Linked DNA regions of Homo sapiens. The protein of the gene in region 1 purifies or fractionates together with the protein of each later gene. This does not show direct contact. Each region holds a gene or a part of one and is shown on either strand. Other genes may lie near its edges.

Evidence for each region.
Region 2: the proteins of FAM219B (region 1) and SPAG9 purify together in Homo sapiens (affinity purification with mass spectrometry; 3 studies listed by BioGRID and IntAct, with this or other methods). This does not show direct contact.
Region 3: the proteins of FAM219B (region 1) and TRMU purify together in Homo sapiens (affinity purification with mass spectrometry; 3 studies listed by BioGRID and IntAct, with this or other methods). This does not show direct contact.
Region 4: the proteins of FAM219B (region 1) and MTCH2 purify together in Homo sapiens (affinity purification with mass spectrometry; 3 studies listed by BioGRID and IntAct, with this or other methods). This does not show direct contact.

The regions. Positions count from the first base shown.
Region 1 is NC_000015.10:74,903,836-74,911,116, forward strand, and holds the start of FAM219B (protein FAM219B), read right to left. Parts: upstream 3,017-7,281; 5' UTR 2,966-3,016; coding exon 2,752-2,965; intron 2,531-2,751; coding exon 2,443-2,530; intron 1,397-2,442; coding exon 1,319-1,396; intron 1,225-1,318; exon of another isoform or gene 1,147-1,224; intron 878-1,146; coding exon 829-877; intron 1-828.
Region 2 is NC_000017.11:50,984,845-50,991,868, forward strand, and holds part of SPAG9 (C-Jun-amino-terminal kinase-interacting protein 4), read right to left. Parts: intron 5,825-7,024; coding exon 5,606-5,824; intron 5,029-5,605; coding exon 4,833-5,028; intron 2,394-4,832; coding exon 2,268-2,393; intron 935-2,267; coding exon 854-934; intron 147-853; coding exon 79-146; intron 1-78. UniProt on the Homo sapiens protein: The JNK-interacting protein (JIP) group of scaffold proteins selectively mediates JNK signaling by aggregating specific components of the MAPK cascade to form a functional JNK signaling module.
Region 3 is NC_000022.11:46,345,696-46,352,719, reverse strand, and holds part of TRMU (mitochondrial tRNA-specific 2-thiouridylase 1), read right to left. Parts: intron 6,299-7,024; coding exon 6,176-6,298; intron 2,430-6,175; coding exon 2,257-2,429; intron 600-2,256; coding exon 546-599; intron 457-545; coding exon 390-456; intron 1-389. UniProt on the Homo sapiens protein: Catalyzes the 2-thiolation of uridine at the wobble position (U34) of mitochondrial tRNA(Lys), tRNA(Glu) and tRNA(Gln).
Region 4 is NC_000011.10:47,625,548-47,632,571, forward strand, and holds part of MTCH2 (mitochondrial carrier homolog 2), read right to left. Parts: intron 6,165-7,024; coding exon 6,107-6,164; intron 5,541-6,106; coding exon 5,489-5,540; intron 5,068-5,488; coding exon 5,008-5,067; intron 3,500-5,007; coding exon 3,406-3,499; intron 1,581-3,405; coding exon 1,533-1,580; intron 195-1,532; coding exon 127-194; intron 1-126. UniProt on the Homo sapiens protein: Protein insertase that mediates insertion of transmembrane proteins into the mitochondrial outer membrane. Catalyzes insertion of proteins with alpha-helical transmembrane regions, such as signal-anchored, tail-anchored and multi-pass membrane proteins.

The DNA.
Region 1 (7,281 bases):
GCTTCACTTGCCAGGATTTTACATCCCTGTTTTTCTATCTGGGACAGTCACTCTAGAAAAATGTCTACATGGCTATCCCAGGAGTGTTTTAGCCTGAGTTTTCATAGATGGAACAACTGAAGAAACAGAAGTTGTTTGGTCTGGAAGAAAGCAAGCTTGGTGAAAGATGGGCAGGGGAGAGACGGAAATGCTGATCTCAGAGAAACTAGAGTTGCTGTGTGACACTGGAAAGCAGGTCAAGGACCAATGGACCCATTCAGATTAATAAGGAAGATTTCTCTAACAGCTACTCAAAGAAAAAATTCTGTGTGTGTTGAGGGAAGGGTGGGTAGCAAGGCTCCTTGGAGGTGGTCAGTACCCAATTACAAAAAGCATTCAAGTAAGCACAGACTAGCAAACACTTAGCTGGGATCTATCAAAAGGGTTCCTTTTGTAAGCTGTGGCCTAGAAGACTTTTATTTTAGAGTCTTATTTTAGAGACAGGGTCTTGCTATATTGTCCAGGCTGGTCTTGGAACTCCTGGGCTCAAGCAATCCTCCTGCCTCAGCCTCCCTAGTAGCTGGGACTACAGGCATGTACCACCATGCCCAGCTTACATGACTTCTGAGATCATTTCTAGCCCTGAGTCTAAATGGTCTCCTCGATTCTCAACAGCCCTCCTTGGTCACCTATACCTCCACCGGGGGAAGAGGGCAGAGTGGAAGATCGTAGAACAGACCAGAAGTCTGGCACAGTGCTGTGCTCACAGCGGGCACCAAACAAGCATTTGGCAGTGGTGGTAATGCTGCCTGCAGCCTGGCCCTGCACAGAAAGGTGTTCTGGACTTGCCTCTGCAGATGAATACCCGGAGGAGTATCTGGATCCCAGCTCCCCATCACTAGGAGAAGAGGAAAACAGTCAGTTCCGGGAGGTACCTGTGGTGCACAGCTGTAAATCATCAGGCGGAGAGCATGCAAGGGCATCTGGAAGACTTTTGAAGCAAAGGCCACACACAACAGAACTCAAGTCCGAACAGGCCTTGAATAATACTGGTTCCCTCAATTGGTTCTGGCAGGGACAGGGTCACTCTCACTAACAATGCAAACATAACAGGGCAGGATGATCCCCCGGACATTGGTGCTCCGAATTCTAGAGCAGCACGATTACCTATGAGTCTTCTAACCAAGCCATCCTGGGAAGGGATATTGTTCAGAAGAGAACGGCCCTGGAATGTACATGAAGGGCCTTGGAGGAGACAGGGAACAAGCAAAGGCATCAGGCGATCTTCAGTCCCAGCCAAGTTGCTTCCCAAGGGGGTATTTCCAAGGGGAGCACTCACCTGTCAGAGTCGAGGGACACCAGGTTTTCATCTGGACTCTGGCTAAGAGCAGTATAGCCCTTGTTAAACTTCACTGACCTGAGGGGAGACGGGGGAGAAGAGACCAAACATAGATGAAAGCATAGGCATTTCACAGGGATAGGCAGAGTCCTCGCCCTGAAGGAGAAAGAATTGACTGCACTACTGACTTGCCTTCTCCCTGGTCACAGCCACCACTGCCTGCAGCTCCATGTACCTGGCTACAGTGCCTCAGAATGTGTATGTTCTCATTCTTTTTTTCTTTTTTTGGAGACAGAGTCTGGCCCTGTCACCCAGGCTGCAGTGCAGTGGCGCGATCTCGGCTCACTGCAATCTCCGCCTACCATGCTCAAGTGATTTTCCTGCCTCAGCCTCTTGAGTAGCTGGGACTACAGGCGTGCCCAGCTAATTTTGTATTTTTAATAGAGACGGGCTTTCACCATGTTGGCCAGGCTGGTCTCGAACTCCTGACTTCAAGTGATCCACCCGCCTCGGCTTCCCAAAGTGCTGGAATTACAGTCGTGAGCCACCACGCCCGGCCTGTATTCTACTCCTCCCATAGGTCTTGGAAAAAAGCACACCTCCCCTTGCCTGATCTAGGAAAAGCACCCTCTCCCCACTTATTTAATCAGAGGACACAAAAACTGCAAGTCTTTGGGTAAAAGGTTAGGGTTAACCTTCACTTCTCCGAGTTTCAACCCTCATCTGTAAAAGGAGGCACTGAATAAGGTTCTATGCAGCTCCGAGTTTACTATTCTGTTAAAAACAAACAAACAAAAACAGGTCTAGCCATTCCCACACTGCTCTTCGTCCTCATTGCTGGGGACTCCAGCCACCATTCTCCTCCCTAACAGAGGAGGAGAATGATAGTGAATGAGCCTGTGCACTCACAGAACTCCCTTATTCCGAAGCCCTTTATCTGATCCTATCACATCCTTAAAGGAAAAGAGAGATTGTTCCTCTTCCCATTTTAAAGATAGTGAACCTGACAGGTTGCATCAGGGGAATCGCTAGCTCGGCCTTAAACCAGAGCACCCTGCCTCCGTCCTGGGGATTAAAGCCTTCTCTAAAGCTGCTGGCACAGAGGAGGTGGCGCCTGCTGAGACCTTTTCCCTGAAGAGTCTGGGCGGTTCGGCGAGGCCCCCAGCATGCCTTTTCTCCGCAGAACGGCCTTGGCCAGGTCCCGGTGCTTCTCTGGAAGTTAAAGGACCCGGGTCAGCCGGGTCTTCCCCACTCCGCCGCGTCTCCCGAAGGCTGGGAGGCCGCTCTTTCCGAACGGATTTTGAGGGGCGAGAGCAGGCTGCAGCTAACCCCTTCCCTCCGGGGCCGAGGCCCAGCGGAGCTCCGGAACCCGCCCTGGGGACGCGGCCGCCCGCCCAGGGAGAAACCTCCCCCGACCATCGGGCCACACTCACGCAGCTTGGCTTGAATGGAGGGTGCGCGCGTCACCATGTATGGCCCCCGCTTTTCCACGGCCGCGGGGGTGCGCTCCCCCAGACGGAGGGCTCTATTACCGATCTGCCCGGAGGGTGGCCCCGCAGCTCCCGGCGCGCGGTCCCGAGCCCCGCTGGGCCGGGGTCCCGGGGTAGACAACCGCAACGCGCGCCCGCTGGGCTCCGCGGTCGCCATGGCCGGGCCCCGCCCTGCCGGATGGTGCAACCCCGCCCGTGGCGAAAGAGTGACCGGCCGAGGGAGAGGCGGGCTCTTTTAACAAGATGGCGGTGCGCAGGCGCAGGTAGTCCCCTTTCGGAGCTCTCCGGTTCGGTAGTCTGAGGACTTGGCCGAAATGTTCCGCCCTTCTTTTCGGGGGGACCGGGCAGTTCCGTTCTCGGTTTTGGGGTAGGCGGCTTGAGCCTGGTGATGGTTAGGCTTAGTTCTGTCTCTAGTGGAAATTAAATACTGATACTGTCGTGGGGCTGCGCGTGTGCGTCGGTCGGGTGCCCACGGTTTGAGTCCTGGCGCGCCGCACTCTGTGCTTCTCGCAGTGTCTCCTTGGGGGTCTCCCCACATGTGGGGCTGCCAGAGAGCAGACTTGGGTTGAAGAGTCATATGAGGACAAGCGTTATCAGCGACCTTTTCTAGCAAAAGAAACAGGCCCCAGAAGTTAAAGAACCTTGTGAAGGTGACACATCTAGAGGCAGTGCTTGCGCTGATCCATCTGACGCCAAACCCCACCTTCTTTCCAACACCAATTGGTGCCTGTGACATTGGACAGGACCTGACCCTCTCTAGGCCTCAGTTTCCACATTTAAAAATAGAGCCAATGTCACTACTCATTGTACAGTGAGGCAAATAGGCGTTGAAAAGGAGGGTGAAAGTGCACTCTGAGTCTGTGTGTGGTAGGCTATGTGTCAGGGCTCTTGACTTCTCTAGCCCCCAAGGGATGTGCTTGTGACTGGCTGGAAAGAAACTCCAGATCCTTGTAGAACTCCCAAATCTCATGAGGCTGTCCCTTGACTAACTTACTGGCTTCAATAGGGTAGGTCAACAGTGTGCAACCTCCGAGCTCCCAGGGCCACGCAGACCGTTGGGTGGCACTATGCCTTGGGCAAGAGAGGTGAAAAGGAAGAATTTAGGGCTGAAGTTTTCAAAAATCAAAAGCACAAAGGAATCCTTACCATTTTGGTAGATTCCCCCCACTCCCCATGATGTTAGACTGTTTTTGCCTCCAGAAACAGCAGGTTCATATAGCTCAACTTAGTATTTAATGGTTATAACCTCCCAATGAAGCCAATAGTTATTCTTGTTAAACAAATGAAGCTTAGACTTGGTCAAGTTTACCAGTTAAGTGATAAACCTGGAATTTGTACCCAGTTGCCTGTGGACTCCAAAGAAGTAGTTTTCTGGCCGGGCACAGTGGCTCACATCTGTAATCCCAGCACTTTGGGAGGCTGAGGCAGGCGGATCACCCGAGGTAGGGAGTTCAAGACCAGCTTGGCCAACATGGTGAAACCCCATCTCTACTGAAAATACAAAATTAGCCGGGCGTGGTGGCGGGTGCCTATAATCCTAGCTATTCAGGGGCTGAGGCAGGAGAATCGCTTGAACCCAGGAGGCGGAGGTTGCAGTGAGCCGAGATCAGGCCACTGCACTCCAGCCTAGGCAACAGAGCAAGACGCTGTCTCAAAAACAACCAACCAACCACCCCCCAGCCAAAAAAAAAAAAAAAAAAAACCAACAAAAAAACAACGAAGTGGTTTTCTCCTGGTTATGCTGATGTGGACATCACCAAGGGCCAAAGAAAATGTGATTTAAACCAGCAGTCTCCAGCCTTTTTGGCACTAGGGGTTGGTTTTGTGGAAGACAGTTTTTCCACGGGGTGGAAATGCGGGGGCTGGTTTTGGGATGATTCAAGCACATTTATTGTGCACTTTATTATTACATTACAATATATAATGAAATAATTATACAACTCAACTTAGAATCAGTAGGAGCCCCAAGCTTGTTTTCCTGCAACTAGACGGTCCCATCTGGGTGTGATGGGAGACAATGACAGATCATCAGGCATTAGATTCTCATAAGGAGCCCACAACCTAGATCCCTTGCATGTGTGGTTCACAATAGGGTTCATGCTGCTATATGACTCTAATGCCACGGCTTATCTGACAGGAGGCGGACGGAGCTCAGGTGGTAATGTGAGCAATGGGGAGCCACTGTAAATACAGATGAAGCTTTGCTCACTCATGGACCAGTATCCATCCATGGCCTGGGGCTTGGGAACCCCGACCTAAACCCACTTAATGTCACAAGATCACTAGGAACTTGTAGCAAAAGTGTGACAGCCTTCATGCACACTCCTCCCAATCTTCCATCAATAATGCTGTTAACTGCTGACTGATTGAACATAGACCCTGAAGCCAAATTATTTGCTCTGTTACCTACTGGCAAATTATTAAACCTCTTTATGTCTCAGTTTCTTTAGCTAAGTGGAGATAAGAAAACCCATCTAATGGAAGTGGAATTGTGAAGTTCAGTTGTAAAGTGTTTAGAATGACACCTGGCAAATAGTAAGTGTTCAAGAAATATATGCTATTATTTACACAACCCTTATACAGCATTACAAGGATTTAGTGTTTATTCTCTCATTTGACTTTACACTCCCCAAGGGCAGACCTTATTCACTTTTTAGCATAAGGTTATAGTAATAAGTATTTGTTGAATTAATATCCTATTTCCCCTCTTTTAGTTAACTAGTATCATAGAACTTTGGGGCTGGAAGAGATCTTTTTTTTTTTTTTTTTTTTTGAGACAGAGTCTTGCTCTGTCGCCCAGGCTGGAGTGCAGTGGCGCGATCTTGGCTCACTGCATGCCCTACCTCCCAGGTTCACACCGTTCTCCTGCTTCAGCCTCCTGAGTAGCTGGGACTACATGCGCCCGCCACCACACCTGGCTAATTTTTTTTTGTATTTTTAGTAGAGACGGGGTCTCACCATATTAGCCAGGATGGTCTCAATCTCCTGACCTCGTGATCCGCCCTCCTCGGCCTCCCAAAGTGCTGGGATTACAGGTGTGAGCCACCGCACCCGGCCTGGAAGAGCTCTTAGAGATTATATAAAGTCATTATTAATGAAGAAATTGTGGTCTTGTGATAGTTGTACTCAATGATCCTGGCCTGGATGTGGGAAGTTCCCTTTTCCACTTAAGAAATTATGTTCACTAGGGCTCACGCCTGTCATCCCAGCACTTTGAGAGGCCAAGACAAGTGGATCGCTTGAGGCCAGGAGTTCAAGAGCAGCCTGGGCAACATGGCAAAGCCCCGTCTCCACAAAAAAAATAGAAAAAGTAGCTGGGCATGGTGGTGTGTGCCTGTGGTCTCAGCTACTTGGGAGTCTGAGGTGGTAGGATCACCTGAGCCCAGGCAGTTGAGGCTGACTGACAGGAGGTGGAGCTGCAGTGAGCTGCGATCGCACCACTGCACTCCAGCTTAGATGACAATGAGACCCTGTCTCAAAAAATAAATAACTTACAATTCAAAAAAAAAAAATTATGTTCACTAGGAACCTAAGACAAATAAATACCCACCCCACCACCAAAAATACCCCCAACCAACTCTAGGTTGCAAGGGGATGAGTCTCCAGAGCAAGAATTGCCACAGCAGAAAGGGCACAAAGCCCCTCTTCCTTGCTCCTACTACTCAGACCTTAACCCAGTGCTTGTGCTGCCTGCCTTGCTGGGCCTGGGGCTTCTCAATTTAGCATAGCTTTATTCATCTCCTACTGTGTCACAGGTGCTATGCTGGGTCCTGCAAACCTAATGATGACAAATAAGGTATCTCCCAGTTCCCAGTCTTATTTCTTTGTTATTGGGGGGTAGTGAATCCTCGGGGAGAGATTATTGGCTGTTAGGAGCAAGGACTACTACCCTGGCTTTTGGAACCCTCATTGGGCAGTTACTCTTTATCCCTGGCTCTAAATCTAAGTTATTCCCTAAACTTTCTTGGTCCTGGGACAGATACATCTCCATCATCAGTTGAGAATTCTGGTTCTGCTGTTGACTGGAGCTGAATTCCTTCATACAGGCAAGTATCTGGGGTTAAACATTAAAAGGGATGGAGGACAGAGATTTTTTTTTTTTATCCTGCTACTTCCCTTTCAAGCTCTCTTCCATCTCAGAAGCCACTGTCTCACCAGGTTGTGGCCTCTAGCCCAAGGAACTTCTCTCATTATTGGTAGAGTACAGATAACTAGATAGGACCTATGAATCTGCAGGTCTTTCTGGGTTCCCAGGTTACCAGACCCACCATTGTCCTCACAGTTATATGCAAAGGTATGGCCACAGCTGTGGCGGGCTGCTGTGGCTTGTCTCCACCAAACCCCATGTTTAAATTTGATCCCCAGTGTTGGAGGTGGGGCCTAATAGGAGGTATCTGGGTCATGGGGGTGGATCCCTCACGAATACATTAATGCTCTCTCTGAAGGTGGTAAGTTCTTATTCTATAAGTTCCT
Region 2 (7,024 bases), on another chromosome or scaffold:
AAACATAAACCAATCTACTTAAAAATGCTTTGCAAAGCAACAAATTAGTGTCCATGTTATACACACATCACCACTCACCCACTCCTCTGTGAAAGATTGCAAGGGTGCCGTCAGCCAGGGCTACTAACACGATTCCCTTCACGTGTCTGCAAACAGGAAAGGGGAGTTCAGAACTCTCCATTCAGGAATACAGAAGGGACCACATGCTACTGAACTAGTTCAAGGCCTCACAAAGGGCCAATCTGTGATGAGTTAAGGAGCTGACACCTGAATATAAATGAACACACCACTTTCTTCACTGTGGATGTCCTGCTATGAAAAAATGTCAGCTGAACTAAATAAACAGTATGAATGGTATCTCAGTTATTTCACTTTCTGGCCCAAGGTTCTCCTCTCATCACAGACAATCAACACAAACTCTAAAGACCAGAGACATGCACCTTGAGTGGAACCAACAGAGTCAGCCCTGTAGGCTCAGAGATAAACTGTCTGATTTTTTTACAGTGAACACATAGAAAAGAACTAGTAATCAATGCCCCAATCAACATATTTACAAGCCATAAAGAATATTCTAAAATAAACATAACTTAATAGGTATTGGTTATTTCCTGCAGTGCTAAATAAATCGCAGTATGGTGAGGACTCAATCAAGCAAGTTATCCTTTCTACTTCGTTTTCTATTATACAGTTTCATTCTCACTTAACTTCTCTAGTTCCATAAAAAGGGTTAAAAAAACAAACAAATTGGATACTAATTTAGTCGTGAAACATGTATTAGCTTTCAAAGTCTTAAAATCTAGTTTATACCAAAATGCATAGTTTTAACAAGAAGAATTTCCAAAATAAAACTTACACAATACTGAGAATCGAATCTTTAAGTTTAATGGAATGGAGACATTTCCTCCACTGGGCTACAGATGAATGGACATACAAACTGTAAGAACAAAGTCAACACTGGTAAGGCATAGAGAACATCAAGACATTGCATATATCTAACAATGATCGCGAAGTTCATTCAGAAGGAAAGAAGAGTAACATACAAATTTTAGGAAAAGGTGCTGCTGCTTTTGTGCAATGGTCAGAAAAGAAAAATGAGAGTGAGGGTAGGCCTAAGGTAAAGAAATAGGCTGCTGAGCAAAGAAAAACATATGAAGACTGAAAAGCAAGAACTAGTGCAATGCACAGTCAGGTTCACACACTTAGTCCTTGGGCAAAACTCTTTTTTTGAATTGCCTTACCTCTCTACTACACTGATCTATAACTTTTGGATGACAGAGTGGCCCACATAGGGAGTGGCAAACTATGGCCTACAGGCCAGATCCAGTCTGCCACCTGTTTTAATCCAGCCTGCAAGCTAAGAATACTTTTTACATTTTTAAAAGTGTGTGTGGGGGGGAAATCAAGGGTATTTTACGACAGGGGAGATTTATATGAAATTCAAACTACAATGCCCATAATGCTCTACTGGAAGAGAGTTACACTAAGTTTGCCAACTCTTCACTTTATAGTATTGGACTCATATGAAAAAGACATACTACAGGTTGAGTAACCCTTATTTGAAATGCTTGGGATTTCTGACTTTTTCAGATTTTAGAATGTTTACATCATACATAACAGTTGAGTATTCCTAATTCAAAAATCCAAAATGCTCCAATGAGCATTACCTGCCAGCATCATAACAGTGGTCAAAGAGTTTTAAATTTTGGATTAGAGATGCTCAACAGTAATCTTGCTTAACCTTTGTAAATGCACAATTTTGTAAAACTCTCCACACAACCGGAAAGTGAACAAACCATATAATATTAGTCATCATCATCTGACTTTGCAGATTGTGATTTGTTTTACCTATCTTAGTAAAAAATTCACTAAAAGTTGGGATTGGGCCTTCCTGCAGCCAAAATGTTGGTTTAATCCCTGTTTTCCTGCCCACATTCTAGCCTACATAAATTAAATATTCTCTGTCTTTGTGCTGTTCAGGATCTTCTATTTCTGGAGCACCTCGATTTTAAAATTTTACATACCTCTTCTTCCAAGAATATTATAGAAAGGGAACATTCTGTGACAAAGAAACATATGGCTTACTATTCAGAACCAGTGCAAGTCCAGTTTATGTGGTAGTTGCAACATAACATCAAATTGTGTGTATATATAAAATTCTTTGCATTAATCCACACTTTTTGTATTTGTTTACCATATTTTACTTATCTTCTGATTTCAAAAGCAAAAGTAAAACAACATATTCTAATGTTAAAAGCATTGACACCTACCAGCCATTTTGAGCTCCAAGCCACATAGTTGGTAAAAGACTACTCATTTTCTGGGCTTCTTCTCTCACCAAGTCTTGTTCATTTGGCAGTACTGATATTTGATCTTTATATGCATCTGAGTCATTGCTGGAAAGGGAGGGCAAAAGGAAAGAAATCTGAGTATACTTAACTATCGTTATAGTTTTCAGGGACTGAATCCTTCTATATTTAAGTTTGTTCATTTGTTTATTATTTATTTATTTTTTAGAGATAGGGTATCACTCTGTCACCCAGGCTGGAGTACAGTGGCACAATCAGGGCTCACTGCAGCCTTGACCTCTCAGGCTCAAGTGATCTTTCCACTTCAGCCTCCTGAATAACAGGGACTAGAGGCACACACACTATCACACCTGGCTTCAACTTTTAGTCAAAAAAAAAAAAAGAAACCACCAAAATTCCAGAAAAGCCAAAGTCAAAAGCTTACATCACATATTTCAACAATTGTACCAGAAATAACATTAACAAACTAGGAAGCCCAAGGAGCAGAAAAGATAATAAGACATGGTAATGAAATACAGCAGTTAATATTCAGACAATTACTATGGCTGTCTCTTATTTTGGGTTTTGTCATAGTTTCTTCTCAAGTGAGAGAGAAGGGAGGGATACACACATACAAATAGTAGGGAGAAATATAAAGAATGACCTAAAATAAATTAATAAACTGAAATATGTTTAATATTCTATCACAAAACCTTTCCTTTGAATTGTCAGGGCATATTTAGTAAAAGATATATAACCAGGCTATCAAATTCAAACATGACTTATTCTTAAATTAATAATTCAGGCCAGGTGCGGTGGCTCACGCCTATAATCCCAGCACTTTGGGAGGGTGAGGTGGGTGGATTTCTTGAGGCCAGGAGTTCAAGACCAGCCTAGCCAACATGATAAAACCCCATCTCTACTAAAAATACAAAAATTAGCTGGGTGTGGCAGCACATGCCTTCAATCCCAGCTACCTGGGAGGCTGAGGCAGGAGAATCGCTTGAACCTGGAAGGCGGAGGTTGCAGTGAGCTGAGATTGCACTGCTGCACTCCAGCCTGGGTGACAGGGTGAGATTCCATCTCCAAAAAAAAAAAAGAATTAAATATTAACCCATTTATGCCGGAGGTTGCAAATTTTTTTTGTAAAAAATCAGACCTTAGCGATGACCTTGAGCAGTAGGATATGAATAACTCCCACAAGCTTAGCATTCCAATAATGGACCACTAGGCATAAATGGGTTATTAATTAATCTTTCTTACTTTATACACTAAGAATATTAAACTTTAAAAAGGATCTAGTTTAAAGAGACTCTCATCTAGAGGGGATCTAGAAAAGGCAGGAAAGAAAATAAAATAATTCACTAAATGGGCCTAGATTAACCAACCCTTTAACGGAGGAGCCTAAAACAAACAGTTTTCTTTGGTTTGTTTGTTTTCTGAGACAGAGTCTTGTTCTGTTTCCCAGGCGGCAGTGCAGTGGTGATATCATGGCCCACTGTAGCCTCCAGCTCCCAGGGCTCAAGCAATCCTCCCACCTCAGCCTCCTGAGTAGCTGGGACCATAGGTGCACGCTACCACGCCCAGCGAATCATTAAGTTTTTTGTAGAGATGAGGGTCTCACTATGTTGCTCAGGTTGGTCTTGAACTCCTGGACTCAAGCAATCCTCCTGCTCAGACTCCCAAAGTGCTGGGATTATAGGCATGAGCCACTGGAACTATCTGAGTTGTTTTTTAATAAAATATTTGCATGAAAACTAAATTCAAAAAGGTCATCCACACCCATGTGGGAAACTTGTACAATGGCAGATTTAAACAATGGCCAATTTTGCTGATAACTGGAGTGAAAATTAGAGTAGGGGTGGGATTAAAATGACAAAGAATTACTTATAGAATGGAAGACAGTAAGTACAAAAAAAAAGAAAAAAAAACAGATCAGAGGAGAAAATGAACAGAAAGATTTTGACTAATATATAGTCACACACCTGGTAAAACCATTTTGGAAAATGATGGACAGAATATATGGTGGTGGTTCCACAAGATTATACTACTATATTTCTACAGTACCTTGTGCATGTTTACATACACAAATACTTACCGTTATGTTCCAATTATCTACAGTATTCAGTACAGTAACATGCTGTACAGGTTTCTAGCCTAGGAGCAATGGGCTATACCATATGGCCTAGGTGTGTGATAAGCCATACCATCTAGATTTGTGTAAATGCACTCTATGATGTTCACACAATGATGAAATCACCTAATGACACATTTCTCAGAACATATCCCCATTGTTGACTGATGCATGATTATACTTTTATAGATAAGATTTTTTTTTTAAATTGGAAGGTGTACAGAAGAAATGGGGGGGAATATCCAGCGAGAATGATGGAGCGGGAATACATGAAATTATCACAAGAATAGGTATCTTTTAATCCACCACAGTGACACTAATTAGTGGAAATCTTTTGACTGTTTGAGATTATTTTGGTTCCTTTTATTTGTGCACTTCACCCAGTTGCCTAAGTTGATGACCCATTATTATACCTCGACTGATACACTGGGGAGAGGTCTTCTGGGATCTGAACTCCCAAAGGATCTGTAAAGACATGCTCTGTGTAGACGCCAGTTTGGGAGATGTCCACTGTGTCTTCAGCTGACCCCGCATTCCCTTCTGTAGCTTCAGTTGCTTCTTCTGCTGTTGGAACATTTTCATCAACCTCACTATTTTCTGCTTCCATTTCTACAAAGTAAATAAAACACTATTCCAAGTCTGGGCTTTTCTCCTCCAATTATTTCCCCACACAAACCCCTGTTATAGAATTCCATTCCATCTACCCACTCCTTCACACTGTACCATGAAATTAAGAATTCTTCATTCCATTTAACAGTCATTACAGCATTTTTTTTTTTTTTGAGACAGAGTCTTGCTCTGTTGCCCAGGCTGGAGTGCGGCGGCGTGATCTTGGCTCACTGCAAGCTCCACCTCCCAGGTTCACGCCATTCTCCTGCCTCAGCCTCCCGAGTAGCTGGGACTACAGGCACCCGCCACCACGCCCGGTTAATTTTTTGTACTTTTTAGTACAGACAGGGTTTCACTGTGTTAGCCAGGATGGTCTTGATCTCCTGACCTCGTGATCCACCCGCCTTGGCCTCCCAGAGTGCTGGGATTACAGGCGTGAGCCACCACGCCCGGCCTACAGTATCTTCTTTCAAGTTCTTTCAACCTTGTTACTTAAGATCTAAATTAAGTCCATAATGAGGCATCTGAGTGTAGCCTTAGACTCTATACAGATGGCAGGTAAAGAGAATGGATATACCTGGTGGTTTATCCATCACTGGAGAAGCACCATTTGTACTAGGGGAAGTGGCAGCTCCCGTCACACCTTCTGCAGAACAACCAACCACTGTGATGCCTCCTAACAGGCTGTCTGTCTCTGCTGAGCTGTTGCTTGTCATACTTCCACATAAAGATGCTTTGTCTACCTGACCAGATTCTGAAAGATCTTCTCCTGCAGGGTAGTCTGTTTCTCGTGCACCTGAAAAATAAATCTTCTTGTAACAGCAAAGTAAACTTCTATAAATAACATTTTTTTTACTAAAACAATTACAGGTTTGAAATGAGAGTTATGCAGGTGAGATGTACAGGTAGTTGAATACAGGTAGCATTAAATTTACATAAACAAATCTTCACAATATGGGAAGGTAACTTAAAAAATTAAGAAAATACTTCTATTAACACAAGTGCAAATAAACATAAAAATGTCAGAAAATAAACTTTTTTTTTTTTTTTTTTGAGACAGAGTCTTACTCTGTCGCCCAGGCTGGAGTACAGTGGCATGATTCAGCTCACTGCAACCTCCGCCTCCTTGGCTTAAGTGATTCTCCTGCCTCAGCCTCCTGAGTAGCTGGGACTACCGGTGTGAGCCACCACGCCTGGCTAATTTTTGTATTTTTGGTAGAGACAGGGTTTCGGTATGTTGGTCAGGCTGGTCTTGAACTCCTGGCCTCAAGGGATCCACCAACCTCAGACAAGTCCTAGGATTACAGGTGCGAGCCACCACGCCTAGCCAGCTTCTGTTCTTAGTGAGCTCCTCAGCAGCCACAGGTTAAAAACAATCTATTATATCTGACAACATCAGCCAAAAAAAAATTCTTTTAAATCATCAAGACTACTGCTACTACTTGAAGTATAAGCTTCTATCCATTACTGTTAAAAATTAAATGCCCCAAGTATATAGGTTGATTAAGATATTAGTAAAACATTAAAAACTAAGCATTTATAATATAAAAATATTTACAATATAAAAATAAATCTCATTTTTTAATTTAGAAAATTGTTTTATTTATATCACACTAAAAACTTTTATTGCAGTAAAAATAATATATATATAAACAAAATTTGCCACTTTAACCATTTAAAAGTGTACAATTCAGTGGCACTAATATTTACAATATTGGCATTAATATTTATAACATTGTGTAGCCATCACCATTATTTTTTTTTTTTGGCGACAGAGTTTCACTCTTGTTGCCCAGGCTGGTGTGCAATGGTACAGTCTCGGCTCACTGCAACCTCTGCCTCCCAGGTTCAAGCAATTCTCCTGCCTCAGCCTCCCAAGTAGCTGCGATTACAAGCGCCTGCCACTGCACCTGGCTAATTTTTGTATTTTTAGTAGAAACGGGGTTTTACCATGTTGGCCAGGCTGGTCTCGAACTCCTGACCTCAGGTGATCCGC
Region 3 (7,024 bases), on another chromosome or scaffold:
TAATCATTCACACCATGCCGGGACGTCCACCTTACTCCCTGAATCAGAGTGGAGTTTTGTGTAGTTTAACATTTTCCTTACACAGGAAGGAAATCATTCTTTTTACAGGGACTTGATACGTAACTCACAGAGTATAGTCCTTCCAAGTCAGAGGCGCGCTTTTCATGAACTCCAGCATCTCAGCTGAGGCCACATCTGGAAGTGCACCCAGCCACCATCAAGGCAACTGTTCCACCCTAGGCCGTGCCCGCCCCCGGCCGCCCCACAGAGCCTTCTACAATTCTCCAGCCAAGTGGAAGGGACGACAGGAACTCTGGTCTAGTCTCCCAGAGCTGAAACGCCACAGCTCTAGGCATTTCAGATGACAAGTGGCAGAGTCTGCACCTCACCTTTATGTGTTCCCAGAACCTTATTGTCTTCTATGGAAATAAAGTGACCAGGTCGAGGCTGCAGATACTGGAAAACAAACATGTCATTACCGACGGAGATCTAGGCCCAGGGCAGACACGCAGCCCCATCTCTTTGTGTCAAAGAGCAGCACGCACCTGAAGAAGGAAATGTTCAAAATTCCTCTTCCCGATGAAACACATGCCCATGCTCTGAAATGAGAAGACGGCAGCCGTGAGAGGAGCAGAAGTGGCGGTGGCCCAAGCTGTACCCAGACGTCCTGAGCGGGCCCTGGGGCCTCCCGGCCTCACCCCACACTTTGCTTCCAGGGTAGGGGCCCGGCTGCCCACCGGCACCCTCGGCCGCCAGTCACAGCCGGCGCACACGATGCCAGAGCCTTAGAGAACGCCTCATTGTCTCGGCCCGCGGGGTCTGACCCTGCGCGGGAGACCCTCACACCAGCTGCCCCGGGGAAGAAAGCAGAACCCGGTCAGGTCCTTCAGGCCACTGTCCTGCGAGGAGTGGGGGAGAGACAGGGACCAGAGAAGGGGCAGGTAGCAGGAAAGCCAGGCCTGAAGCTAAGGCCTTAGGGGAGGGCTCCAGGGGAGTCAGAGGAGAGAGGCGCCTTCCTCAAGCACATCTGCCCTAGCTGGGGAGCCTGGGTGGCGTGCGCTCTCCACCGTGGCCCCATCAGGGGCTGCATCGTTTACTCTGGTTTGTGTCTCTCAAGACTGCCCTTCCATCCCTGCGGCTCCCACCACAGAGCGACACCGGAAACGGAAAACAAGAGGAGAGGAGGACGGGCGGTGGGCGTGCTCTTCAGGGAAGATGGCTCTGATGAAAGGTATGGCCGTTTCCATTACCAGGAAGAGACACGAAGGAGCAACAGCTCCCACCGCACTGGCCCCTGAAGAGGTGAGGCTCATCCCACAGCGCCCTCGCCCTCCATCCCCAAGGCCCTCCCACGGGCTTCATCCTAGTTCCGCCAACACTCCGGGTTCTCTCTTTTTGAGACGAGTTTCGCTGTGTTGCCCAGGCTGTCCTCAAACTCCTGGGTGCGCTCGATCCTCCTGAGGAGCTGGGGCCACAGGCAGGCACCCCCACAGCGGCTCCCTGGCTTCTCCTCGCCTCAAGGCCTTTGCACTGCCGTTCCCTCATCTGGACTTTCCCAGCCCTCTCTGGGACACCGGATCCTCTCCTCCTTCAGGTCTCAGGTTCCATGTGACTTCTTTTGAGGCCGTTTTTGGCATCTCCATTCCCTACTCTCAGACCCCACTGGTGCTTCCCACCCAGGGTCCTACACCTCCCTCCGTAGACATTTTCTAGGTTTACACTGATTGGCCTCCTGCCTGTGTCCCCCACTCGCGGGCGGGCTCCATGGAGGCGAAGATGGAACTGTGTGCGCGTCACCAATTCCTCGCGGCCCAGCAGCACAGCGCCCGAACAGATGGCACCGAACGAGTCTGTGCCGGGCAAGCGGGTGACAGGGCACATGAGTGTGCAGACGGCGGCACAGCACCTGCCCCTCCAGGGGTCTCGGGGCTGCATCACACTGCCTGGCACTCACCTGGCAGGCAGGCCATCCCAAGAGCACCCCACCAGCTGCTAAGGCTGTGGGGAAAGCTGCCTACCACATAGGGGCAGAGGAGAGGAAAAAAGCAAGGAGTCTCGTATAGGCTGCTCCCGATGTCAGCAGAGCCCTGTACCGTGCGCCTCAGCAAACTCCTCCATCTATTGCTCCAAGGCCCGCCTTTGATGTTAGGTCCTGGAGAAGGGGAAGTGGTGCGGGACCCACAGGTCCAGCTGCTCCGTGCCATGCAGTCGGGAAAGGGAAACAGGCACTAATCAAAGGCAACTGCTCACTCGTACCTCTTTCTTCTGAAGCACATGATGAAGTCTATTCTCAGCAGCGATTTTCTTTACAAACTCTTTCGTTAATCCCCCCAGAGGGAAGATGGTTCTCCTCAGGGCATCCTGGGAAACCTGGCTGAGAAAGAAGGTCTGGTCTTTAAAGCTGTCAGCTGCCTGGAGGAGTTTTACCGCTGCCAAGAATAAAGAACAAAAGACGATGCAGGAATAAAAATAATGATACTTCACTTTCAACAATGTCCTTCTGTTCACTTAGACAGACTACCCCTAGCCTGTCAGAGGCAGACATCAACACTCAATAGCAACTACTAGGGAAAAGACCACCACGGGTTAATGTAAGAAAAATTCGCACCTCCAAAAAAAAAAACAAGGATTTTACATGACAAAGAAATTATTCCAGCTCATACTTCAGATTATAATATTTTCAAAGATGAAACATCACATGAAAAAATGTTCTCAAGTGATAAGAAAAAAAAAAAAAAACACCTAAAATAAATTCAGCCAAATCTTGGAAAATGGAGTAAGCTAGTTGCTGGCAGAAAATTCCACTGATATAGTGTCAGCTGTGCCTTCTTCCAACAACCACAGGATGTGTTCGTGCCACAGTGGTTTCAAGGACTCTACACTTTCCAGGTTCACTGCCCGGCGGCCAGCACATGCCTCCAGCAGCGCCCTACCTGTGAAGGCATTAGCTTTCTTGGTAAAAACGTTTTTTTGTTGAGAGTCTCAGCTGACATCTGTTAGGTGACCCTGCAGTTCCTCCGACATTCCCTATGTGATTGTAAAGAACCATTTCTGGCTTTAAGGCAACGGAGCAGAGGTGTGAGTAAACCTGGCTTAGAACCGTCCAGTTCTCCACTCTCGAGTTCAATGATCAATGGCAAAAAACTAAGACGAACGTCAGTTTTCTGGCTTCTTTCAATCTTTCTCATAAACTTCTCCTTTCGAGTTACACTCAGAGCACGCCACATGCCGTGACGGTCAGACAGCACACCTACCCTTCCTGGCTTGGCAGAGCCACGTGTACAGTACACACTCTGCGTAGCTAGTGTTTTCCATCTGCCGATTCCCACGTTAGCCGTGAGAGGGAGAATTCTCCCCACGTTACAGAGGGGAGACTGGAGCCGGCCCAGTTCATCACATATGACTCGCCCAAAGTGATGCAGGTGGAGGCGGTGGGGCTGGAGGCTGCCCAGCCTCCCGAGTCCCCCTCCCTTACTTGGCAGGTACAAACAGCAGAACTGAGTGACAAGTGAGACCAAGTTCAGCCGACCAGTCGCCACGGAAGCAGAGCACTTTCCAGAGTCCACTTTTTTTTTTTTTTTTGAGATGGAGTCTCGCTCTGTCGCCCAGGCTGGAGTGCAGTGGCACATCTCGGCTCACGGCAATCTCCGCCTCCTGGGTTCAAGTGATTCTCCTGTCTCAGCCTCCAGAGTACCTGGGACTACAGGCATGTGCCACCATACTCGGCTAACTTTTTTTTTTGTATTTGTAGTAGAGATGGGGTTTCACCATGTTGGCCAGGCTGGTCTGGAACTCCTGACCTCATGATCCGCCTGCCTTGGCTTCCCAAAGTGCTGTGATTACAGGCATGAGCCACCGCACCTGGCCTCAGAGTCCACTTTCAATCCCAAACTAACTGCAGTCAAACACTGCATGTGTGTAAAAGCCTCAGAAAACTAGGAGCCATTTGCATTTTCTCCTAGTTCTGCGTCATTTTAAAACAAACTAAAAATCTATGATTTTCAAAAAAGCAAGCTGGCGACCCTAACTGAACTGCTATAGAGGAAAAAGCACAGAAAGGAATGAACAACATTTGGAGGAGGCTGCCTGTGCTGGAGCCTCACTGACACGCCGGCTGCCGTGCTGGCTCTGCCAGGCCGGTGGTAGCACGCTGTGTGGGGGAAAATCAGCCCAGTCACAGGCCAGGCCTAGGAGCGCTGGTCTCAGGTGCTGACCGACCCTGAGCCCAGGCCGTCCACTGCCCCTGCAGGTGCTCTACCCAGAGACCCAGGCTGGGCCAGGGCAACTGAAGAAGAATGAAATGGAAACCTTAGTGTGCCTACAAAACCCAGTGAAGGCCAAGACACTGTGCACCATCACAATTCCCACATGCCAAACGCACTCAACAGAACGCATCAGTACTGTCCCAAGTTTCCGAGGGCACGTGGCCTATAATAAAGGTCGATGGCTCTGCAGGGCACACAGTGTTCTAGGAGGTAATGTTCTAGGAGGTAAGCAGGCGCATCTATTCAACATGGAAATTAACCCTCCATCTCCTCAGGCCCCGTAAATGCACAATTACTTGGTGAATTCCACCCTGGAGTTCCCAAGTGGCAGGACTCTGCATTCCAACCCATGTCTTCCTGAAATGGGGGGCTGTCTTATCTGCATTCAAACCCATGTCTTCCTGAAATGGGGGGCTGTCTTACGGGAGTGGGCTGCTCTTCTCTGGGCTCAAGTCAGTACAGTTACCTGATCACCCTGTGGCATAAGGAAGGAAGGCGAGGAGGGAACAGAGGGCGGCAGACGACTGTTGGCACACTCAGGGCTCCCTTGACCAAGCACGGCCCTGCCCCATCACTGCAGCCTTCAGGATGGGCTCAGCAACGCTGAGGAAAGAACTCAGCTGGGGCCTGACCCAGCAGAAGCAGCAGGGGCTGGGGAGTGAGCGGAAGTGCACTGAAATCCAGCTCTGCCACCCGAGGGACCCAGGTCAGATGGCTTCATCCGGGCCTCGGTTTCCTCATCTGTGAAACGGGATGAGAGCATACACCTCATGGACTGCTAAGAGGAGTGATGTGAAACGTGTGAGGCCGGGCTTGGTGGCTCACACCTGTAATCCCAACACTTTGAGAGGCCGAGGTGGGAGGATCGCTTGAGCCCAGGAATTCAAGACCAGCACGGACAACATTAACGAGACCTCATCTCTACAAAAAATGAAAAAGCCGAGCATAGTGGCGCACACCTGTGGTCCCAGCTACTTGGTGGGGCTGAGGTGGGAGGATCACTTGAGCCCAGGAGGTGGAGGCTGCAGCGAGCCAAGATCGGGCCACTGTACTCCAGCCCGGTTGACAGAGTGAGATCCTCTCTCAAAAAAATAAAATTAATAATAATAATTAAAAAAGAAATGTGTGTATGTAAAGCCCTGCCCCAGCCCCAGAGACCCCTATTCCCCAGATGGCGGGACAAGGCTCCCTCCAACATCTGAACTTCCGGACAAAAGAGCAAGGCTGCCCTTCAGGGGTCCCCACTGATGGACGGACGCTCCGTGCGGAAACACGGCTCTGAGCCCCACTTGGTTTTTCACTCAACAATACAGGGAATTCCTCTTTTCTACACACGAATGTACACCAGGACAGGCCAGCAGCTTCCCAGCTCACTGTCTGCCATTGACTTTTTTCTAGAAAGGTGAAACTTGGCTCCCTAACACGCATAAACTAACGTGTAAATACGGCTACAAAGCCTGACTGCTGAGCCCATGCGATCCACAGCAGGTCCTGTGCTCACAGCACGTTGAAAGTCTGCCTGAACCGCACGCCCTTGAGAACTTGTTGCTAAGTACAGGTCCTTGGCTAGACTGACAGCACCCCAATTATCACTGTCAAATATTTACCCAGATATTTTTGGAACATTCAAATCACCACACAGTGTCGAGAGCTGGATTATCAGTATCTGATGTCACTTTCCACCAGCCCTCACCATGGCCGGCAGGGACACTGTTTACTACCCAATCACAGGCCCTCCGGGAAAATGTCCTCTTGGTAACTGCACCTTTTCAAATGTGAATCCCATACAAGCTACTCTGGAGCACAGAGGGAGGGGTGGCAGTGATCCTCAGGCACAACCCACTGTCATTCCTCCAAAGATTTCAATCTGTTCACAAGAATTTGGCTCTGACCTGGGCACATGAACTTACCATTTCTAACTTCAAACCGATTTCTGAAAAGCCCTTCGGGCTTCTTAACGTGCTTCTGCTCAAAGACTTCTTCATCTTCCAGGGAAGTTCTTGCATAGTGACCTGTGGCAATGGCATCTGCCCCTGTGAGGTTTTTAGAACACAAGGATCAGGTTTTAGACTCATACTTGCAGGCCTTGATCAGCATAAACCAAGGCACAAAAGAAGAGTATAGACCCCAAGTCTTAGGCTGAGGGGCTGCACAATCCACCCTGCACCCAAACATAGAGATCCCAGGGAACAGACGCACACATCCAATTTCATCAAACAAGCAGCCTTGAACTCTTAAGCTGATACAACCTTGCTACTTAAAGTGTTATTGCACCTTTAAGAGCCTTTCCAAAGTTAATTTCTGGCTTAAGGAAACAGTCTGAAAGGCACAGAAAGATTTAAACACAAAATATTCCTTTCAGGGTTTGTGATAATACGAAGGGAGGCCAGGCGCGGTGGCTCATGCCTGTAATCCTAGCACTCTGGGAGGCCGAGGCGGGCAGATGATTGCTTGTGCTCAGGAGTTCAAGACCAGCCTGGGCAACATGGTGAAATCCCACCTTTACAAAAAATACAAAAATTAGCCAGGCGTGGTGGGGCACACCTGTAGTCCCAGCCACTTGGGAGGCTGAGGTGGGAGGATTGCTTCAACCTGGGAGGTTGAGGCTGCAGGAAGCCAAGACTGCACCACAGCACTCTAGTCTGGGCAACAGAGCAAGATGCTGTCTCAGGAGGAAAAAAAAAAAAAAAAGAACCAAAATGTTCAACACTGGGAGAATGTGAAGTGAATGACAATGCACTGCCGTAACAATGGGGGTC
Region 4 (7,024 bases), on another chromosome or scaffold:
CTTTTTAAAAAAATACCAATCAGAGATTGATACTGATCATTCATCTTTCCTAAATTTCTACAAGGCTGCTCCGCCTGTCAGCATACAGTCAACCACCTACTAGAATAAGAAATACAAAGTGCTTACCCACAGTTGTTGACAGCCATAAGATTGGAGACAAGCACAAAGGGATAGGTCAACATACTCGCAAAAAACTGTAAAATGGAAACAAGGCAGCTGTTATTAGATCATTCCTAGTCTTTATTCTCCTTTCCTTTACCTTAAAGGCCTAGTGCCACTGCGGTGAGACACTCTAACACTTGTCTCGCTTCATCGGTACCCTGGAAAGACAACAGTTACAGTTTTGAGCCTGGAGATGCTTCTTCCTCTTAGCACACCACTGCATCCAACATTTTAACAAAAGGCCAGAAGAATTCTCTGATCCTGAGTAGCTGGGACTATAGGCGCACGCCACCATACCCAACTACTTTTTTTTTTTTTGAGATGGAGTTTCCCTCTTGTTGCCCACGCTGGAGTGTAATGGTGTGATATTGGCTCACTGCAACCTCCGCCTCCTGGGTTCAAGCGATTCTCCTGCAACCTCCGCCTCCTGGGGTTCAAGCGATTCTCCTGCCTCAGCCTCCCAAGTAGCTGGGATTACGGGCATGCACCACCATGCCCAGCTAATTTTGTAGTTTTAGTAGAGATGAGATTTCTCCAAATTGGCCAAGGTGGTGTCGAACTCCCGACCTCAGCCTCCCAAAGTGCTGGGATTACAGGAGTGAGCCACCGCGCCTGCCCCAGCTTTTTTTTTTTTTTTTCACTTTTGTAGAAATGGGGTCTTGCTCAGTTGCCCAGGCTGGTCTTGAACTCTTGGCCTCAAGTGATCCTCCTTCCTTGGCCTCCCGAAGTGCTGGGTTTACAGGTGTGAGCCACCATGTCTGGCCTGAACAATATTATTTCGGAGGAAAGGCACGCCCCTTATGAAAGCTAAGCAGTACCAAACCATGCAGGATGTGAGGCAGGGGTTCTGCCTTACTCTCTTTATTTTCACATGTGAGTCTGTGGTTCCTTCGAAAACTGAGTTATTCTCTCTTTTTTTTTGAGATGGAGTCTCACTCTGTCGCCCAGGCCGAAGTGCAGTGGCGTGATCTCAGCTCACTGCAGCCTCCATCTCCCAGGTTCCAGTGATTCTCCTGCCTCAGCCTCCCGAGTAGCTGGGATTACAGGCATGCACCACCACGCTCGGCTAATGTTAGTATTTTTAGTAGAGACGGGGATTCATCATGTTGGCCAGGCTGGTCTCGAACTCCTGACCTCAGGTGATCCGCCCACCTCACCTTCCCAAAGTGCTAGGATTACAGGCATGAGCCATGGCGCCTGGCCGAAAACTGAGTTATTCTTACCTTTGACAAATATAACAAATTTCAGGGAGATGTCCCAGTGAGACATCTGGTTATCTTAAAGCAGTGATGACACAAGCCAGATTTAAAAGGAAAACAAAACAAAACACAACTATTCCTAGAAGGTTAAAAGGATTTTAAAAAACTCACTCCTGTGACAGCTTGAGAATAACTCTTCATTTCATTCATGGTAGAAACCTAAAATAGGAAAAGAGCCTTAAATTAATTACCTACAACACTACAACACATCAATATATTCTTTTTTCCTTTTCTTTTCTTTTCTTTTTTTCTTTCAGACAGTGCCTCACTCTGTCACCCAGGCTGAAGTGCAGTGACCTCCTGAAGCACACATCACCACGCCCAGCTAATTTCAAAATATTTTTTAAGAAATGGTGTCTTTTTTTTTTTGAGATAAGGGTCTCCCTATGTTTGCCCAGGCTGGTCTCAAACTCCTGGGCTCAAGAGATCCTCCCACCTTGACCTCTCAAAGTGCTGAGATTATAGGCATAAGCCACTATGCCCAGCTAAGAGACGGTGTCTTGCTATGTTGCCTAGGCTGGTTTCAAACTCCTGGCTTCAGGCAAACCTCCCACCTAAGCCTCCTGAGTCGCTGGAATCATAGGCTGGAGCTACTGTGCCTTGCTCTCCATGTCAATATAGTCTATCTCTAAATTATCAGTTTGACAGCTTGAAAATTAATTTTTTTTTTTTTTTTGAGACAGGATCTCATCTCTCTTGTTGCCCAGGCTGGAGGTGCAGTGAGCTGTGATCTCACAACCTTGACCTCCTGGGCTCAAGTGACCCTCCCACTTCAGCCTCCCAAAGTGTTGGGATTACAGCATGAGCCACCACACCTGTCTAAAACTAATTTTGAGGACAAAACCATAAAACACTGATTATTAGAATAATAAGGCAGTGGTCAAAATGATCAACCTGATTCAATATTAACAGACAAATTCATATTATACTAAAATGCTTTAGGGACGAATGTAAAAGGATTTCAAATACTAAAGAAAATGAGATTGATAACCTTTTCACACATCCTAGAAATACAGTCCCTGGAAAACCACATTTATAGTATATCTAAGGGACAATTCACTACCTTTGTTTTACACAGCTAGCTTTCTACCAGATGCGTTGAAGAAAATCCCTCTCTGTACTCAAGAGGTTTACAACATGGATTTAGTCATATACCCTGTGATGTGTTCAATTTATCATCATGCTATGGAGCTGCCGACATACAAGAGGCCCCACAACTGCTGAGATAAGAAAGACAACTTCTAGATAAGACTGATTCTCAAAAGGCTGAGGTTTCTAGAAAGCCCAATACAGGCACCCTCTTAAGTCCAGATTAGATGAAAAGCCCCCGATACACCATAAAGATGTCCTGCTTTCCCAGGTTCTCTCAAGTTAAGTATCAGTAAAGAAGTGATCTCTTTAAAGCCCTGAAGTAACACAGGGCTAAGTCTCTTGGGTATACTCTGTCACATCTTACGGACTTTTAACGTGTATCGTTCTACAGTAAACAGTATCGTTCTACAGTGAACAGTATGCTCATTTCATTAGCATTTGAAAATTTGACTGATAATTTTTAGCTATATAATTGTTCAGTCTGGCATGTAGCAAACTGTCATCTTGTTTATTTATTTATTATTTATTTTTTGAAATGGAGTCTCCTTCTGTCACCCAGGCTGGAATGCAGTGGCGCGATCTTGGCTCACTGCAACCTCCGCCTCCTGGGTTCAAGCAATTCCCCTGCCTCAGCCTCCCAAGTAGCTGGGACTATAGGCACGCACCACCACGCCCAGCTAATTTTTTCTGTATTTTTAGTAGAGACGAGGTTTCACCATGTTGGCCAGGCTGGTCTCGAACTCTTGATCTCAGGTGATCCGCCCACATTGGCCTCCCAAAGTGCTGGGATTACAGGTGTGAGCCACCTCGCCCGGCCCATCTTACTTTAAAAGCTAATCTAGCTGCCAGATTAAAGCCAAGGTGAGCACATCTCACGAAGGTCACAACCTACCCCACTGTCCAGTGCATAGGTATTGACGAGGTAGGCCAGTGAGTTACACAGCCACAAAGAAAGGATGTCACCTAGAAGGCGAGGAACAAGACCCCTACATGAAGAAACAATAAAAATAAGAACCAAAAAATGTGATCAGTAACATGACAGGCTCTTCAGTACAAATGTTTGTCAAATAATTAGAGGTCACAAAACATTCTAGGGAAGTAAAAAAGGAATCAAACACCAGAATCCAGCCCGCATACCTAGTTCATTCTCGTTAACACAGCTGTACTTGAAGCTGATCTCCAGTGACTTTTGTTCCTATGTTTAAAATGCAGGTCGGCTATACCCTCAGTGGCTCACCTTACTATTCATAACTGTAAGCAGGGAGGCAAAAGATTTGCGAGGTGCTTTGCAGAAGAGACTTAAATATTGTTTTGCTTTGACTAGCTTAAAAAAATGATTTTGCTAAGCTATCTGATATTCATATTTGGCAGAGCAAAAGACGAGAAAAATTACAAAGCAAGAATGGTCCCAAGTACAGATACAGATGAGAGGCATCAAAAACCACATTTCTAGGGTCTGGGTGACCTAGGTGAGGCAGCATGGAATAGTGGGAAGAGCATTTCCCCACGGATTGAAGACCAGCTTCAAATGCCAGCTCCAGCACTCAGCAGCGATGTGACAGGCAGCAGATGAAACTCTCAGAGCATCAATGTTTTTTAATCTCTAAAGTGATACTAATTATAGCTGTCCTGCCTATCTCACAGGGTATTTATGATATTCAAAATCCGTATGGGGAGATACTCTGAAAATTAAAAAAAAAAAAACAAAAAACACCATTTCGGTAATGATGCAAAATTTTTCCTCATAGAAGAATGAGGGTAGTAGTCTAAGTTCTTCCAAAGTAAATTCAAGCCTTGCAAAAACTTACTCTTTTACGGTAAGGAAAATACAAGTTAAGATGATTTCCCCATTTTTCAACATTTAATTTTTCTCATTTTATTATCTATATAGAATTGGGAGTTTACTACAAGGGTAGAAACTTGGAATTAAGTCCTTTGTTAAAAAAAGAAATTCCTTATTTATTTATTAATTATTATTATTTTTTTGAGACGGAGTCTCACTCTGTCACCCGGGCTGGAGTACAGTGGTGCAATCTCAGCTCACTGCAACTTCCACCTCCCGGGTTCATGCAATTCTCCTGCCTCAGCCTCCCGAGTAGCTGGGATTACAGGCACACACCACCACACCTAGAGGTGGGGTTTTACCATGTTGGCCAGGCTGGTCTTGAACTCCTGACCTCAGGTGATCCAACCGCCTTGGCCTCTCAAAGTGCTGGGATTACAGGCGTGAGCCACCACGCCCGGCCTCAAATGTTTTAAGTATCTAGAAGTAAAGGTTTGGGATCTTTACAAGATAATTCTAGTCATATGGGGCCTAAATATGCCTTTCTGCAGAGAAAAAAGAAAAAAAAATAAGGGGCCTAAATAGAATGTAACGTGAGGTAAGCCCAGGGAGTACGTTTTCCCCAAGGATTAAACAAAGACTCACTATTCTTACTTTCAGAAAACGTTTCCCACTCATGCAAAAATTACACACTAATCAACATTTACTCACGCGAAAAATCCTAGAATGCCCTCTTCCCGATAGATGGTTATTATGGAATCACAAAGTCCACTACGTACACAAGAAGAAAAGGTAAAATATATTAAGATTCTTTTGGAGCTATAAACAAAATAATTTCAATTATCACATTGGACAAGGTCAAATCCACGACCTCCTTCCCTCACACTTTTCTAGCACTCTCTCACTCTGCAAAGATAGCTAAATTTGGAGATAGAAGTGAAAATATTAACTACCTAGGGGTATAGTCATATGGAGTCAGGGGCTCTGCAACTTACTCTGAAATCCTACGTAGGCTACTAAACCTGCCTGGGTATATTTTCTCCCATTTTATTGTTTTTTGTGCAGATCAAATGACATCAGATACGAATTTGTTCTACAAATTGTAAGGGTATCATAAAAATACAAAGTAGTATTATTCTAGTACTTTGGCTTCAAAAGATCTCCTTGAGTATGTGAAAACAAAAATACTTACCAGTACTTGGATTCTCTGCCAATGAACTGTACCATAGATCTCAGAGTGATCACTGTGGAATATAGAGAAAAGATGTTTACAACTATGTTAAGGCCAGGTGCGGTGGCTCACACCTGTAATCCCAGCACTTTGAGAGGCCGAGGTGGGCGGATCACCTGAGGTCAGGAGTTCAAGACTAGCCTGACCAATATGATGAAGCCCCATCTCTACTAAAAATACAAAAATTATCCAGGCGTGGTGGCATGCACCTGTAATCCCAGCTCCTTAGGAGGCTGAGACAGGAGTACTGCTTGAACCCGGAAGGCTGAGGTTGCAGTGAGCCAAGATTGTGCCATTGCACTCCAGCCTGGGCAACAAGAGTGAAACTCCGTCTCAAAAACAAAAAACAAACAAACAAAAAAAAACTATGTTAAGATAGATTTTGATAGCCCTGGGAAAAAAAAAGATTTTCCACCTAAAGACATTTTGCTATCTGGATAAATTGGATAAAAGCCAAAACAAGCAAGCAAACAAAAACATGCAGGCAAGGCATTTTAGTCAACTCCCACGTCAACCTATCTAAGTGGTCAGGAGAGATCAGGTTATAAAAGAAAGGTCAGTTGTCAACTGCAAACATACCATGGAAGGGATGTGTGATGAGGGTAGCAGCAGAACGAGCGATCATCTCTCGAGTTGTCTAGAAACAATCAACACACACTTCTGAAATCTAAACAAATGACACTCAAATGCCTGTGAGAAGGAATGTGGGTGGATATCGTGGTATAGGATAAGAAAGTGAATGACACAGCCCTCCTGCCCTGGCTGGAGTCAAGAAGAGTTTGAATGGGATGTGAAAGATCTCATTCATTGTCATTTTATCATACTTTTCACTCATGGATCTCAATGTTCTATTATAGTTACTTCTCAAAATTTCTCTGCAAAGCAGGCTTCTGTTGTTTTCTCAATTTTACAGGTAAGAGAAAAAAATAAAGAAACAGGAAAGGTCACCAACAAAGTCATTAAGCTGAAATAAAAAATATGAGGCCTTTATTGAGATTATTAAGTTGCTCTCTTATTGGTAAGTGATTTTGGAGAGTCTGACATCATTCTAGATAAATGACAGGCTCCATTTAGTCTCTACTCACATTTTTGGGAGAAGAGAACAATTTTGTTTTGTGACTACAACCCAGTAACTGTGCAGTATCTTAGAGCTGCTGTGTTTTTCCTAGTTTATCTTTCTACTCTAGGGCTCTGTAAGGAAGTAATAAAGAAAATTAAATTATAATCTTTGCATTTAGGTTCTGGGATTGCAAATGTAAGCAGGTCTACCATTGGCTTTTGCATTTTTTTTTTTTTTTTAGGACAGTCTTGCTCTGTCACCCACGCTGGAGTGCAGTGGCGCGAACTCGGTTCACTGCAAGCTCCGCCTCCCGGGTTCACGCCATTCTCCTGCCTCAGCCTCCCAAGTAGCTGGGACTACAGGCACCCGCCATCATGCCCGGCTAATTTTTTTTCTTTGTATTTTTTAGTAGAGACGGTTTCACCGTGTTAGCCAGG